Homo sapiens: one gene and its partners. The protein of the gene in region 1 interacts with the protein of each later gene in a pairwise test. Each region holds a gene or a part of one and is shown on either strand. Other genes may lie near its edges.

Region 1 (3,500 bases):
GGCAGTCGTGGTTGTAACTGCTTTTTAAAATCTTTTTTTAAATAAAAAGATTTTTTGAAGAGGGTCTCACTCTGTCACCCAGGTTTGAGTACAGTGGGGTGATCACAGTTCACTGCAGCCTTGACCTCCCAGGCTCAGGTGATCCTCCTACCTTAGCCTCCTGAGTAGCTGGGACTACAGGCCTGTGCCACCATACCCAGCTAATTAAAAATTTTTTTTAAATTAGGGGTCTCGCTATGTTGCCCAGGCTGGTCTCAAACTCTTGGGCTCAAGAGATCCTCCCACCTCAGCCTCTCAAAGTGCTGGGATCACAGGTGTGAACCATCACACTCAGCCCCCGTTTTTGATTGTTGATTTCTTCCCACAACATGCACCATTCCCGGTCCTACCGTTTGAATGGTACAGAGCCTCTGCCTGCTGGATAAATGCCACACCCTCACTCAATTTTTTTTTTTTTTTTGTGCGATGGAGTTTCCCTCTTCCGCCCAGGCTGGAGTGAAGTGGAGCGATCTGGGCTCACTGCCACCTCCGGCCCCCAGGTTCAAGTGATTCTCCTGCCTCAGCCTCCCAAGTAGCTGGGATTACAGGCGCCTGCCACCACACCTGGCTAATTTTTGTATTTTTAGTAGAGACGGGGTTTCGCCATGTTGGTCAGGCTGGTCTTGGAACTTCTGACCTCATGATCCGCCCACCTCGGCCTCCCAAAGTGATGGGATTACAGGTGTGAGCCACCGCGCCTGGCCGCCTCACTCAATCTTAACCCTGCCCAAGGGACCTTGTTTCTGTTTCAGAACATCCTCTTCCCCACATGGTACCACACTGTGGAGCCCACCTCGCTGTCATAGGCCTGCGGCTCTGAAGGATGGCTTTGCCCGCTCCCGCTCTGCCCCTCAAGTGGAACCCAAGCTGGGCTCAGAATCTGTAGAGTGAGGCCCCACCAAGGGAAACGACACCCACGGCCTGAGAGCCAGGTGGAGTCCTGCCACTCAGCTGCCTGCCTTTGCTCCCACCCTCTCCCACCCTCAAAGAGGTCTCGAGGTAAGAATGACAGCCTTGGAGAGACAGCTTCTATTTCTTCCTGTGGCTTTTCCTTTAGAACCTAGCAGCTGCGGCTTGCCCAGGCCAGGCTGTTTTTTTCTGAACATGGGGCATCAGGGATGGGATCCCCCAACCTCAATCTCTTACCTCTTTTCCTCAGCACCCTGACCATGGCCAGAGACTGAACACTCCCTATTTATGGTCTGGGTCCCCAGAGACAGGGTGAAAGGCCCGTAGGCCAAAGGGCAAGGGGAAAGAGACAGGACAGGAACACGAAGAGAGCTACGTCAGTAGGACAGCACCTGGGAACCAGTGCCTGGGGGCTGACCCCCGCCTGCTCCCAGGGACGCAGGCCCACTGCTCCCAGGCCCACACCAGCCTGGCTGCACCGGTGCAGCACTTACTTTTCTTCCCAAACTGTTTCTTTTTCTTCTTTGTGGCCTCTTTGGCCTTCAGCGGTGTGGCCGGTTCTGTTGTTGAAAGACAAGGGTGAAAGAGATGAGAAGAGGGTCCCTGGGAGGACACAGGGCACAGGCGCATCCCGAGACCCCATCCACCCTCCCACACGAGACACCCCAAGACAGGAAGCCAAACCTGGGCAATGAGGAGAGGGCGGGGCTGGAGGAGGGGCCGGAGAACAGCTGTCCCTTCTTCCCACCCTTGTTACCAGGGCTGCTCAGAGGGACCTGGGTAGTTTACCTGGGTGCACAAGGGCACGAACATATGACAGAGTGGGCAAGATGAAGGAAGGAGCTCTGCAGGCCAGAGGGAAAGGGAGACAGAGAAGTCAGGAGCAGGGGCTGGGTGACGGGGCTCACTCTCTACTTAAAGTGGTCCATGAGACATCTCCACCTCATGCCAAAGAACGGAGATGGGCACAGGGGCGGGGGAAGAAGGAAAAAAGAAGAGGAAAGAAAGTCAGAGCCTCTTAGGGCCACGAGAGCCCACACCTGCGGCCACAGGAGGCTGGAGCTGGTAGCCGGTGAGCTCACACCAGCCGACGGGGTAGATGTCTGGGGACTCGCAGTCCACCCACTGGTCGTACTCGCTGTCCCAGCCGTCAAAGTGGATGCTGAGGAGCCGATGCACCACTCGTTTCACCGTGGCCACACAGATGAGCCGGGGCTCCATCAGGTCCACGGCCTCCAGCTTCATGCCCACCTTGAAGCCATGGTTTGGGCAATCCTGGGGCAGAAAAAGGAGGCAGTGGCCAAGCCAGTCAGCTCCCTACCCCAGCAGGCTTGCCCCGGCCCGGAGGCACTTGAAGAACTGGCAGGGAGGGGCGGGGACTGGAATGGCTGCTGGGGCAGCTTCCTCTAGACAATAACCCACTGCACCTCTCCCAGTACCGCCCTCCATGGAAGAGGGACTGGAGTGCCCAGGCCATAGCTGGGGACTTCCCCCTGAAAGTGGCTGATGTCAGCAGTAGAGATTCGAGAGAAAGAGTAGGAACTGCCACCACTGACAGCAGCAGGCAGGGCCTGTCCTGAGGCCACCGCAGGCCCCTTGCTCCACTTCAGTCTCCTCACCATGTTAAAGAGTCTCGATGGAGCGGCTTTCGACTTGGTCTTCTCCAAGTAGTTCTCCCAGTTGAAAGTCTGTGCCTCATAACCTGGAGGAGCAGAAAGCTCAGATGCAGAGGGAGAGGGGGAAGCAGGAAGTGGGCAGGAGGAAAGGACACATGGCTGAAGAAGCTCTGCAGCTTGGTCAGGACCCAGCATGGAGTCTCCCCAGCAGCCTTCTTCTCATCCCCTCAGGGTAGTACCTGCTCTAGCACCACAGTCCTGTTGTATAGGTTGTTCACTGACCAATGGGATAAGTGGGAGCTCTGTTCATCAACCATACACTGGCCATGGGGTAGGGTCAGCCCAGCAGTTAAGGGCTGGTGGTGGGCTCTGTCACCTTTCCCATACACCCTGAAATGCTACACTTCTGGGGCCTGACTTGACCAGGAATCTGGGCTTGTGGCCACACCCTGCCCCTTCTGTTTTGTTTTGAAGACAGAGTCTTGCTCTGTCGCCCAGGCTGGAGTGCAATGGCATGATCTCGGCTCACTGTAACCTCCACCTCCTGGGTTCAAGCAATTCTCCTGCCTCAGACTCCCGAGTGGCTGGGATTATAGGCACCTGTCACCATGCCTGGCTAATTTTTGTATTTTTAGTAGAGACGAGGTTTTGTCATGTTGGCCAGGCTGGTCTCAAACTCCTGACCTCAGGTCATCCACCTGCCTCGGCCTCCCAAAGTGCTAGGATTACAGGCGGGAGCCACCGCGCCTGGACACCCTGCCCCTTCTGATGGCAAGGACAGCAGGTGGTGGCCTCTCTAGTCTTACCTTTTGGCGGTGTGAGCTCAATGTCATTCTTCTGACAGAAGGTGGCCGGGAAGATGGCGTGGGAAGAGGCATGGTAGCAGAACCAGTCCAAGCCATCTGTGGAGGGCCCCCCGTCCACACAGATCATCAG
Region 2 (3,500 bases), on another chromosome or scaffold:
GACAAGAGTGAGACTCTGTCTCAAAATGGAAGGAAGGAATGAAGGAAGGGAGAGAGGGAGGAGAGGAAGAAAGGGAGGGAAAATATGTATTATGTGGGCAAGTAAAATGCAGATGAAGGAAAAGGACAATGATCATTTGAATGGAAGATGGATCCACTGAAATCCAGGTATGGGAGAATACTGAACACGAATGTCGAAAGAAACAGAATGTGCTGACGCTCTGCCAGGCATTTCACAGAAGACAAAGAACACAAACCATGGAGACAAGACTAGCACAATCAAATACTGGGAGGTGAGGAAGGTAGACAGAATTCATGATTTTGGAATGTGCACAGTTTATCATCAGACATTCTGAGAAAGAAGGAAGTGAACTATCTCCCTGGTAACTGCTATGTTGTCAAGTAAAATATTCAACTAGACTCCAGGTTAAAAGTGTCAGACGTATCAATTTGGAGGCAAGCTGCAAAAATACACAGGAAAAAAGGTCTTAGAAGGTGAGATTAGATAAACTCTTTTAAGGGATACAAAGAAAACCAAAAAAGTGGAAAACAGGTCCTAGGGGGACAGTCCTGAAAAGGCAAGAAAAGGAACCGACATTCACTTATGAAATTCACACTTCCTGAATGTCTACTATGGACAGAGCATGATTCCAGTTATGGGGAAGGGGAAATGAACACACAGACGGGTCATGAGCAGTGGGGAAAGAGACGAAGGCTGAGGGAGTGCTATAGCGTCACATCAACTGAGCATGGACTTTGGGAAATAACAGACACCACAAGCTGTGACTCAGTTCACAAGCATAGGTGGAGGATGAGGTTTTGGTATCTGAATGCCTAAAGAAGTAAATAAAATCGAGGGCAGAAAATAAGTCCAAGGTATTTTTAAAGCAAGGAAGGAAAGAAAATGGAAGATAAAAGGAATGAACATAAAAGTCTCAAGTTGATTTTTATGTCAGACTTCTGAATGCCCCAAAACAAAACAATTCTGTAAGGCCGGGAGCCTCAGGACTGTAATCTCAGCACTTTGGGAGGCTGAGGTGGGCAGATCACTTGAGGCCAGGAGTTCAAGACCAGTGTGGTCAACATGGTGAAACCCTGTGTCTACTAAAAATATAAAAATTAGCCAGGCGTGGTGGCATGTGCCTGTAATCCCAGCTACTTGGGAGGCTGAGGAAGGAGAATCGCTTGAACCTGTGAGGTGGTGGTTGCAGTGAGCTGAGATCATACCACTGCACACCAGCTTGGGTGACAGAACAAGATTCTGTCTCCAAAACAAACAAACAAACAAACAAACAAACCCAAAACAATTCTGTAATGGCAAGGGAGTAAATAAGTTACCAATAATGCTGGAGAAAGAGGAAGTGAATGGGTCTCCAGTACCGGTTAGAATGAAAAAATCCCTACCAATGTAAATCAAATGTAAAATCAACAAAAGAGTTCATGTATGTGTGCGGGAAGGAAAGTGATATTTGGGGGTTGGGAGGTGTTACTGAGGGTACTGAATACATATAAACAACTCTTTAGTCTCTCCCAAAGGTCTGGGATGAGCATTTTTTAACCTTTGATACGCTACTAACTTACCTGGACTATGTTGACATGGAAATTCACCTCCCATTATCCACGGCTCCTCTCCCTGCTCCAACTTAATGATGACGTTTGGCTTGGTGGTATCATATCCTGTTAATGGGAAAAGAAGGAGGACTTGGGGAAGCTGCTTGGCTTCAGAATCTCTGAAGTACAAGATGTTGCCACCTCATAAGCTGCATAACAGAAGTGCTCCATTTTTTACCTTATCAAAGTTAGAACCTTTCAATGAATAATAATATAAACACTCCAGCTAGTGCCCACAAGGAATTAAATGGTGTCATCACTTATTTCTTCAAACTCAAGGATAAAACCCCATTCAACTGAGAGCATTCAGAAAGCAAGCTATTCTCACCCACAGAAACTAGATGGCTATAGTTCTCCAACATCACATCCCTGTAAGTTATCTTCTCATCAGGGTCCAGCTGCTGCCACTCCTCCTGGGTGAAATCCACAGCCACATCTTTGAATGACACTGGCCCCTGTAATGGCAACATGATCAGAATTGGGAGATACGGAAAAGGGATAGGGGGATAACGTTTTACAAAGCCCACCGGTAAAGTTAACCATAAACATTGTATACCTTATTTTATGTTACAGATTATGGAAGGGAAATCATATTGGAAACACATATCCTTTGGGGTTATAATACATAATATATAAAATATATAATATATATAAATATATATAATATATATAAAAAATATATATATATTGCCCCACAAAAATAAAAACCCAAAACACAACTGAGCTCCTATTTTGCAAGTGAACTAGCTGAGCTTTGGGGACATGAGATGAGTGAAACACCATGCCTGCTCCCAAAGTGAACAACCTAAAAAGGAGATAAACATGTAAACAAACACAAGCATTTTACTCCTTGTCACTTCTTTTAGTCTTCCTTGCTGCCAGGCCCTCCCCTTGCCCTGGACCTCTTCATGTTGGAGTGCCCACCACTCAGCTCCTGGTCCTCTTCCTCCTAACTCACTGCTCTGGGGCTCTCACCTAGTTTCAGCTCCTTGTTCTTTTGGCTCTTTTATTCTCATAGCCAGTGGCCTCTGGCTATCTGCATGGCTGAGTTTTATCTCAAACATCTCAATCTTGGAGCAATAAATATTCGTTAAATGAATGAATGCCCAAAGCTGTTATTAGAGTAATGCAGACAAGGTGCAGAATGATTTAACAAAAGAGGATCAAATTATTTTAATTTTATGCCATCAGATTAGGCTTCACAGACTCAGTTAACTTGAAGTCTTTAAAGATGAATTGTGCATTCTATGGGATGAAGGGGAAGAAGAATATGATGAGGTGTACAAAGTACCAATGGCAAACGGGAAGCAGCTTCAATTTTTAAGTGGTTGGGGCTGGGCATGGTGGCTCATGCCTATAATCCTAGCACTTTGGGAGGCCAAGATGGGAAGATCGTTTGAGCTCAGGAGTTCGAGACCAGCTTGGGCAACATAGTAAGACCTCATCTCTGCTAAAAATAAATTAAAAAAAAAAAATTGGCTGGGCATCATGGCACACGCCTGTAGTTCTAGCTACTTGGGAGGCTAAGGCAGGAGGATCACTTGAGCCTGGGAGGTCAAGGCTGCAGTGAGCTGTGAATGCAACACTGCACTCCAGCCTAGGCAACAGAGTGAGACCTTGTCTCAAAAAAAAAAAAAAAAAAAAAGAAAAATGCAAAACTCCTGGGCTCCAGCAATCCACCTGCCTTGGCCTCCCAAAGTGTTGGGATTACAGGCTTGAGCCAGCACGCCCTGCCCAAACTTGTAGTTTAGAAAAAGGAAGTGCCCAGTAAGCAGGCTGCATTATCCTATTATTTATAAAGAACATATCAACAAGGGGTTCAAATCCAGTGATACAGCTAGGACCATGTAGATCCCAAGAGATAGCAGAGGCAGGGCCGCTAGGCTGTGG
Region 3 (3,500 bases), on another chromosome or scaffold:
CTGGAAACCCTGAGCTCGGCCCTGAGTCCTCTCAAAACAAGGTGGATATGGGCCTTTCCGCGGATCTAGACCAGGGTCAGCAAACTTCTGCAAAGGGCCACATAGTGATATTTGAGGTTTCGTAGCCCACATAGTCTCTGTCTCAATTACTCAGCTCTGGAGTAAAAGCTGCCAGAGACAATACACAGCCAATTGAGTGTAACTGTGTTCCAATAAAACTTTACTCCAGAAATGTGCAGTGGACTGGATTTGGCCCACAGACAGGAGTTTGCAACCCTGATCTAGACTATGGTTTTCAACGCTGGCTTTGTTGCCAAACCACCTGAAGAGCTTGGTAAAATGTAAATCCCTAAGCCCCATCCCTGGAGGATCTGGTGCAGTAGGTCTGGGGTGCAGACGGCCCCCTCCAGGGATCCTGATGCACTGCCAGGGCTGAGATCCTCAAGGGGCAATAGTGACATAGGAAATGCACACAGTCACAGAGTACAACCTGAAACTCACCTGTGTTCCAGGAACGAGGGCCAGGACCTTTGCTCCTGGGGCCTCCCTGGGGCCTCCAAAGGTGGGAAGAATATCTGTCCTCCTGGAGAAGGGAAGAGTCAGGGGCTGGACAGCCCAGGCCAAAGGAACAAATATTTGTGTGGTGGAAGAAGGAAAGACTGATTGAATGTGAGAAAGAACAGATGAAGAAACAGTGATGCATTTAATGCAAAAAGAATGGGGACTCCAAGACCAGCACCATCTAGGTCTTAGTGGGACCTGTCGCAGTCATGGACTGTTCATAGACAGAAGGCCTATGCCCCATTGCTTCCTCTTTCCACCTGCCCAAGATGAGGGGCTTCCCAGGGCCCCCCCAGGGAAAGGGGAGCTATCTCAGCACCACCTTTTTCCCGAGACATCCCACCAACCAGCGTGAGCCCTAGGTAGAAGCCCAAAGAACCAAGCCCTCTTGGAACTTACTGCCCCCTTGAAGAAGCCAGTCATAGCTGGGCAGTCTCTCCAGGAGCTCTGTGGGGGGCGCCAGAGGACTCTCGGCCTCAAAACTGAGGTCCACCACACCTGCAGAAAGACAAGCATTCCTAAGCCTTGGGTAGGGAGGCGAGGGCTGATGAGGGCTTCACAGGAAGTTGAGAAATTAGGGCGGGTGCATTATAAAAAGCCTCACGTTTAAGCCAGCCTCACTCTGGCATCCTTAGGACACAGAATACATCTGCAGGGCAGGTGGTAGTAGCAGCAGTAATAATAGTGATGAGAAACATCAAGAATGCCAGCTCCTATTTGCTGGGTACCTACTCCGTGAATATGCATTATTGCATTCATGAGTCTGTAATTCACTGTGGAATTACAGATGGCCACATATTCTTTGATGCTTTCCTTTCATGGAAACTGGGAAGATATGTGACTGCCTCAACCAAGAGAACACAGTGGAAGCATTAAAAGACTGCAGCTACTTCTGCCTCATGGAGCATTTGTTTTGGAACCCTGAGCTCTAAGTCAGGCTATTATGCTGGAGGGACCATGAGGAGACCCTAAGACTACATGGAAGGAGGTCCAGTTGAGTCCAGCCTTCCAGCTATCCCCGCCAAACCAGCAAAGCCATCCTGGACCCTCCAAGCCATATCAGCCACCTGCTGAATGCCACTGGATGACCCTAATCAACACCACGTGGAGCAGAAGAATCTCCTGCCTGAGCCCTACCCTAATTCCTGACCCATAAAATCATGAGACATAAAAACATTGTTGTTTTAAGGCACCGAGATGTGGGGTCATTTGTTATGCAGCTTCCTCCAGTGGACAATCTTTGCTCTGGGATTCCCAGCAGACCTGACCAAGACTTTCTTGGAGCCACATGGAGTCTGAGACTCCTCCTACTTAATCTCCTTCCTTCCCTCTCTCCCTTCACAAACGTCAGACCTGCATTGCAGTCTGAAGACATTCCCTCCTCTTTTCTCTTCACAGGTATCTTCAAGAAACCCCTTGCACATCTAATGCCATCTTGGTGTCTGCTTCATGGGTGACCCAAACTGGTACACTAACGCCTTCCCTCATTCCACCAATGAGGAAACTGAGGCTCAGAAAGGTTGTGACTTGCCCAAGATCATACAACCAGCAAGTGGTGGGTGGGGCTGGATTCAAACCTAGACTCGTCTGACTCCAAAGTTCGTGTTCTTTCCAAGTACAGACAGTCCCCAACTTAGGATGTTTGGACTTATTGATTTTTCTACTTTATGATGGTACAAAAGCCATATGCATTCATTATAAACCAAACATCAAATTTTGAATATGGGTCTTTTCCTAGGCTAGCAATAGAAAATATGACACACTCTCGTGACGCCAGGCAGCGGCAGTGAACCACAGCTCCCACTCCACCACTGCCTGGTGTATTAAACGCCTTCTTGACTTCTGATATTTTCAACTTATGATGGGTGTATTGGGACATAACCCCACTGTAGGTGGAGTAGTATCTGTACTTTTCATGAGGCAAAACTATGAAAAAATCATTCACTACGTATCTGTTTTCAAAACCTCATCCTAGCCTGTCGGGTGTGACATAGATACAGGTGGCCCTGAGATGCCAAGGAGGAAAGCATAATATAAGAACTGGCCCCTGAAGCACTGGAAGGTTCATGAAACACCTTCCCACACATGTTGCCTCATCCCACACTCCCACCTGGGGGTGTGGAAGGCAGCACTTCTGACCCCACTTGACATGAGGCACATGAGGCTCAGAGAGATTACTCCAGTAATCCTAGGTCACACAGCTGTGGAGTTAGAGCAGGACAGAGGTCCCAGAGGCCTCTGAAACAAGAGGTCTAGTTCCAGCCCACTGGGCCGCCCCTTTAAAACTGTTCCTACAACCCCTCACACTGGGAGACAAGAATCCCTTGGTTCTGTTTGTCTAGTGGCCAAGTCAGTCACAGGAGTTGACTTCAAATAGTGCCTGTGAAATGGTCATGGAAGGGGACACCGTCTGTCTCAGTCACTGAAGCAAACTCAGAGCAGACTTCCAGCTGAACTGCCCCATCTCCTAGAGCTTGTTTGTTTGTTTGTTTGTTTGTTTGTTTGTTTGGTGGGAGGAACCTATTTAAAGCCCGTAGTAGCTCTCTCCCTTCACAAAAGTAAAAATAATATACCCTGTCCCTTCAAGTTTAATAAAAACAAAAACCAGACAATAGAAGCTTCGTTCCAAGAAAACTTCATTTGTGAAAATAGGTGGTGGGTCCGATTTGGCCCTCGGAGTCACGTTTGGCCCATCCCTGACTTAGACACTCACCTGTGTGTCTACTTAGACATTCTCCTGGGAATGGGCTTGAGGGGATCAGAAAGGTAGAGGCTGAAACCTGAGCCTTTCTGGGGCGAAGGCCCATGCATGTCCACTGTAGTTTCTGTCAGCTCCATTATCAGAATTAAAGATCAAGGTCAGGGCTGGACTGTAGCCCTGAAATACATGGCCCAAGCAGTGGAGGAAGGAGGGGATGCCTTTAAGACGAATGAACACC
Region 4 (3,500 bases), on another chromosome or scaffold:
TTTAGTAGAGATGGGGTTTCGCCATAGTGCCAAGGCTGGTCTCGAACTCCTGAGCTGAAGTGATCCTCCCACCTAAGCGCTGGGATTACAAGCATGAGCCACCGCGCCCAGCCAAAATTATGAATTCTATAGATTCTATCCTCATCAAAATCTTTACAAACTCTAATTAAAAGGACAAATTCTAAAATTTTTATGGAAAAGCCAAGGTCCTAGAAGAGCCAAAACAATCTTTAAGAAAAAGAAAAATTCAGAGAATTCGTGCTATCTAATTTCAGGATTTAGTATAAACAACAATTGAGAGTGTGGCATCGGTAAAAGGACAGACAGATTAGTAGGACAGGGTCCAGAAACAGCCCACACATACAGTTTTCAGCAGAGGCACCAAAGAAGTTAAATACGGAAAGGAAAATCTTTGTAAACAAATAGTGCTAGAATAACTAGATAAACACTGGGGGAAAAAATCAAAGTTGAGCTCTACCACATACCACACACAAAAGGTAATTAAGGCCAGGCATGGTGGCTCACATCTGTAATCCCGGCCCTTTGGGAGGCCAAGGAAGTAAGATCACTTGAGTCCAGGAGTTTGAAACCAGCCTGGACAACACAGCAAGACTCTGTCTCTACAAAAAAGTTTTAAAATTAGTAGGGCATGGGGGCACACATCTGTGGTCTCAGCTACTCAGGAGACTGAGATGGGAGGATCACTTGAACCCAGGAGGTCGAGGCTTTAGTGAGCCATGATCACACCGCTGTTCTCTGGCCTGGGTGATAGAGAGAGACCCTGTCTCAAAACAATAATAGAAAGGGATCAGAAATCTAAACATAAAATCTATAAAGCTTCTAGAAAAAAACAGGAAAGCATCTTTGAGGTCGTGGGGTAGGCAAAAATTTCTTATAGAGGCACAAAACATATAAAAGAAGAAAATTGATAAAATAAATTTAATTAAGATTAATTAGAATCAGAACTTCTGTTCATCAGAAGGTTTACAACCACTTTGGAGAATTTTCTCACAGTTTCTTAAATATACATCTATACTATGAATCAGCAATTCTAGTCCTAGGTGTCTTCCAGGAGAACAAAACATATGTCCTCTAAAAGACTTGTACAACAAAAGTGACTTCTCCATACAAAGGAAATGATTTGGCCATATAAAGGAATGAAGTTCTAATCCATGCTAAAACATGGATGACATTGAAAACACTGTATTAAGTGAAAGAAGCCAGGTACAAAATGCTACATACTGTATGACACCATTTATACGAAATGTCAAGAACAGGCAAATCCCAGCCAGGCGTGGTGGCTCACGCCTGTAATCCCAACACTTTGGGAGGCTGAGGAGGGTGGATCACTTGATATCAGTAGTTTGAGACCAGCCTGGCCAACATGGCGAAACCCCGTCTCTACGAAAAACACAAAAATTAGCTGGGCGTGATAGTGGGCGCCTGTAAGCCCAACTACTCAGGAGGCTACGGCAGGAGAATCTCTTGAACCTGGGAGATGAAGGTTCAGTGAGCTGACATCACACCACTGCACTCCCACCTAAGTGACAGAAAGAGACTCTGTCTTAAAAAAACCAAACAAACAAACAAACAAGAATAGGCAAATCCCTAGAGACAGAAGGTAGATCAGTGGTTGCCAGGGCTCAGGGAATACGGAGTGACTGCCAAGGGGTATGGGGTTTCTTTCTGGAGTGATGAAAATGTTCTGCAATTATATAGTGGTGATTGGTGCAGAACCCTGTAACTATAATAAAATCTATGGAATTGTACACTTTTTTCCCTTTTTTTGAGGCAGGATCTCGTTCTGTCACCCAGATGAGAGTGCAGCGATACGATCACAGCTTATTACAGCCTCAATCTCCTAGGCTCAAGCAATCCTCTTGCCTCATTTTTTAATTTTTTTGTAGAGACAGGGTCTCACTATGTTGCCCAGGTTGGCCTTGAACTCCTGGGCTCAAGCGATCCTCCCACCTCAGCCTCCCAAAGTGCTGGGATTACAGGCATGAGCCACCGCGCATGGTGGGTGCAGTGAACTTTATGGTATGTGAATTATATTTTAATAAAATTTTTATATAATTTGTTTCAAGGCTTGTACATGAATGTTCCCAAGAGCTTCATTGACAAGAGACCAAACCTCAAAGCAATCCAAATGCCCATCAACAGGAAAATGGAAAACAAATTGCAGCATGCTTATGCAACAGAATACTACTCAGCAATAAAAAAATAATAAACTCTTGATACACATGACACAATGGAGGAATCTCAAAAATGTTACTTAAGATATTGATGCAAAAATAATATTGTCTGATTCTCTTTACATGGAATTCAAGAAGAGGCAAAGCAAATCTGTAGTGACAGAAATCAGAAGAGGGGCTTTCTATGGAGATTGATAGGAGTAGAGAGTGAGAGTATTTTCCATGGCAATGAATGTGTACCATATCCTGTTTGGGTGGTGATTATACAGGTGCATTCATTTATCAAACTAATTATATACAACTAAGATCTGTGCATTTCACTGTATCTAAATGTTACCTCAATTAAAGAAAATAAAGGGAAGTTAACATACTTTTTACAGTGAATGGCAGGATGTTTTCTACTTGATTCTCCAATTAAGATCCAATATTCAACTTCCTGTGGTGAGAGAGGTCCCCTGCTAAATATAAAATACATTCACAGTACGTTTAATAGTTACTCCCTTGAGTATATTGCTTCAAATATATATTAATAAAAGGCATACTAGAGTGTATTCAAACCTGGCATTCATTCATCAAGAACAGACATTAGAGCTTAGGTGAGGGCAAATTTCTACAGGCCATTAAAGAGAACTCACAAATTAAAATTTCAGCCTTAATCCTCTATTCAAAATCTAGGGCTATAAAATGTTTTAATATACCACCTCTAAAATTCTAGGAGGAAAAAAAAATCCTGGAATGCTATCTGCATTTTTCCACTACTCTTCTCCTTTCACTATGAATTCAAGACATCTCAAAACGCATCCTAAAAATGAAACCCTAAAGCAATGAAGTCTTTAAACACACTGATGTCCTAAACCCATCCCTGGACATTCTAATTCAAATAGGTCTGGAGTAGAGCCTGGGGATTTATATAGTTTTTTAAGAAAATCTCACATGATTCTTAGGTACAGGCAGAAGTGAGGGACTCTCTTTTAAAGGGTACAAAGTTGGTTTAAAACCATGATTTATATTTGATAAATGTCAGAAATAAGGTGAAGCTGCAGGATGAAATCATAAAAGAAACATACAGTATACCTCACTTACAAGAAATTCCACCTCCAGAAAGATGAATAAAGCATTTCAGCATTGGGAGAGAACAAGAGAGTTCCCTCTTGCTCCTTATTCACAAAACACAACTTCCAGCTTCCTGGTTCTCCCAGGTCATTCCAACCTGTCTCAGAATCCCTCTCTTCCCCAAACCCGAGGGGCCTTTGAGTGGGACTCCAAAGCCACATGGCCTCCAGCCCCAAATAACCCATCCTGGCT

Evidence for each region.
Region 2: the proteins of L3MBTL2 (region 1) and RBAK interact in binary tests that used the Homo sapiens proteins (3 or more experiments, as listed by UniProt).
Region 3: the proteins of L3MBTL2 (region 1) and SSUH2 interact in binary tests that used the Homo sapiens proteins (3 or more experiments, as listed by UniProt).
Region 4: the proteins of L3MBTL2 (region 1) and BIVM interact in binary tests that used the Homo sapiens proteins (3 or more experiments, as listed by UniProt).

Annotation. Positions count from the first base shown.
Region 1 is NC_000022.11:41,225,812-41,229,311, reverse strand, and holds part of L3MBTL2 (lethal(3)malignant brain tumor-like protein 2), read right to left. Parts: coding exon 3,371-3,500; intron 2,651-3,370; coding exon 2,568-2,650; intron 2,224-2,567; coding exon 1,989-2,223; intron 1,794-1,988; coding exon of another isoform or gene 1,738-1,793; intron 1,509-1,737; coding exon 1,443-1,508; intron 1-1,442. UniProt on the Homo sapiens protein: Putative Polycomb group (PcG) protein. PcG proteins maintain the transcriptionally repressive state of genes, probably via a modification of chromatin, rendering it heritably changed in its expressibility.
Region 2 is NC_000007.14:5,055,860-5,059,359, reverse strand, and holds part of RBAK (RB-associated KRAB zinc finger protein), read right to left. Parts: intron 2,066-3,500; coding exon 1,939-2,065; intron 1,677-1,938; coding exon 1,581-1,676; intron 1-1,580. Other genes in the region: RBAK-RBAKDN readthrough, read right to left, coding at 1,581-1,676, 1,939-2,065. UniProt on the Homo sapiens protein: May repress E2F-dependent transcription. May promote AR-dependent transcription.
Region 3 is NC_000003.12:8,634,799-8,638,298, forward strand, and holds part of SSUH2 (protein SSUH2 homolog), read right to left. Parts: intron 1,060-3,500; coding exon 961-1,059; intron 607-960; coding exon of another isoform or gene 584-606; coding exon 502-583; intron 1-501. UniProt on the Homo sapiens protein: Plays a role in odontogenesis.
Region 4 is NC_000013.11:102,833,619-102,837,118, reverse strand, and holds part of BIVM (basic immunoglobulin-like variable motif-containing protein), read right to left. Parts: intron 2,654-3,500; coding exon 2,567-2,653; intron 1-2,566. Other genes in the region: BIVM-ERCC5 protein, read right to left, coding at 2,567-2,653.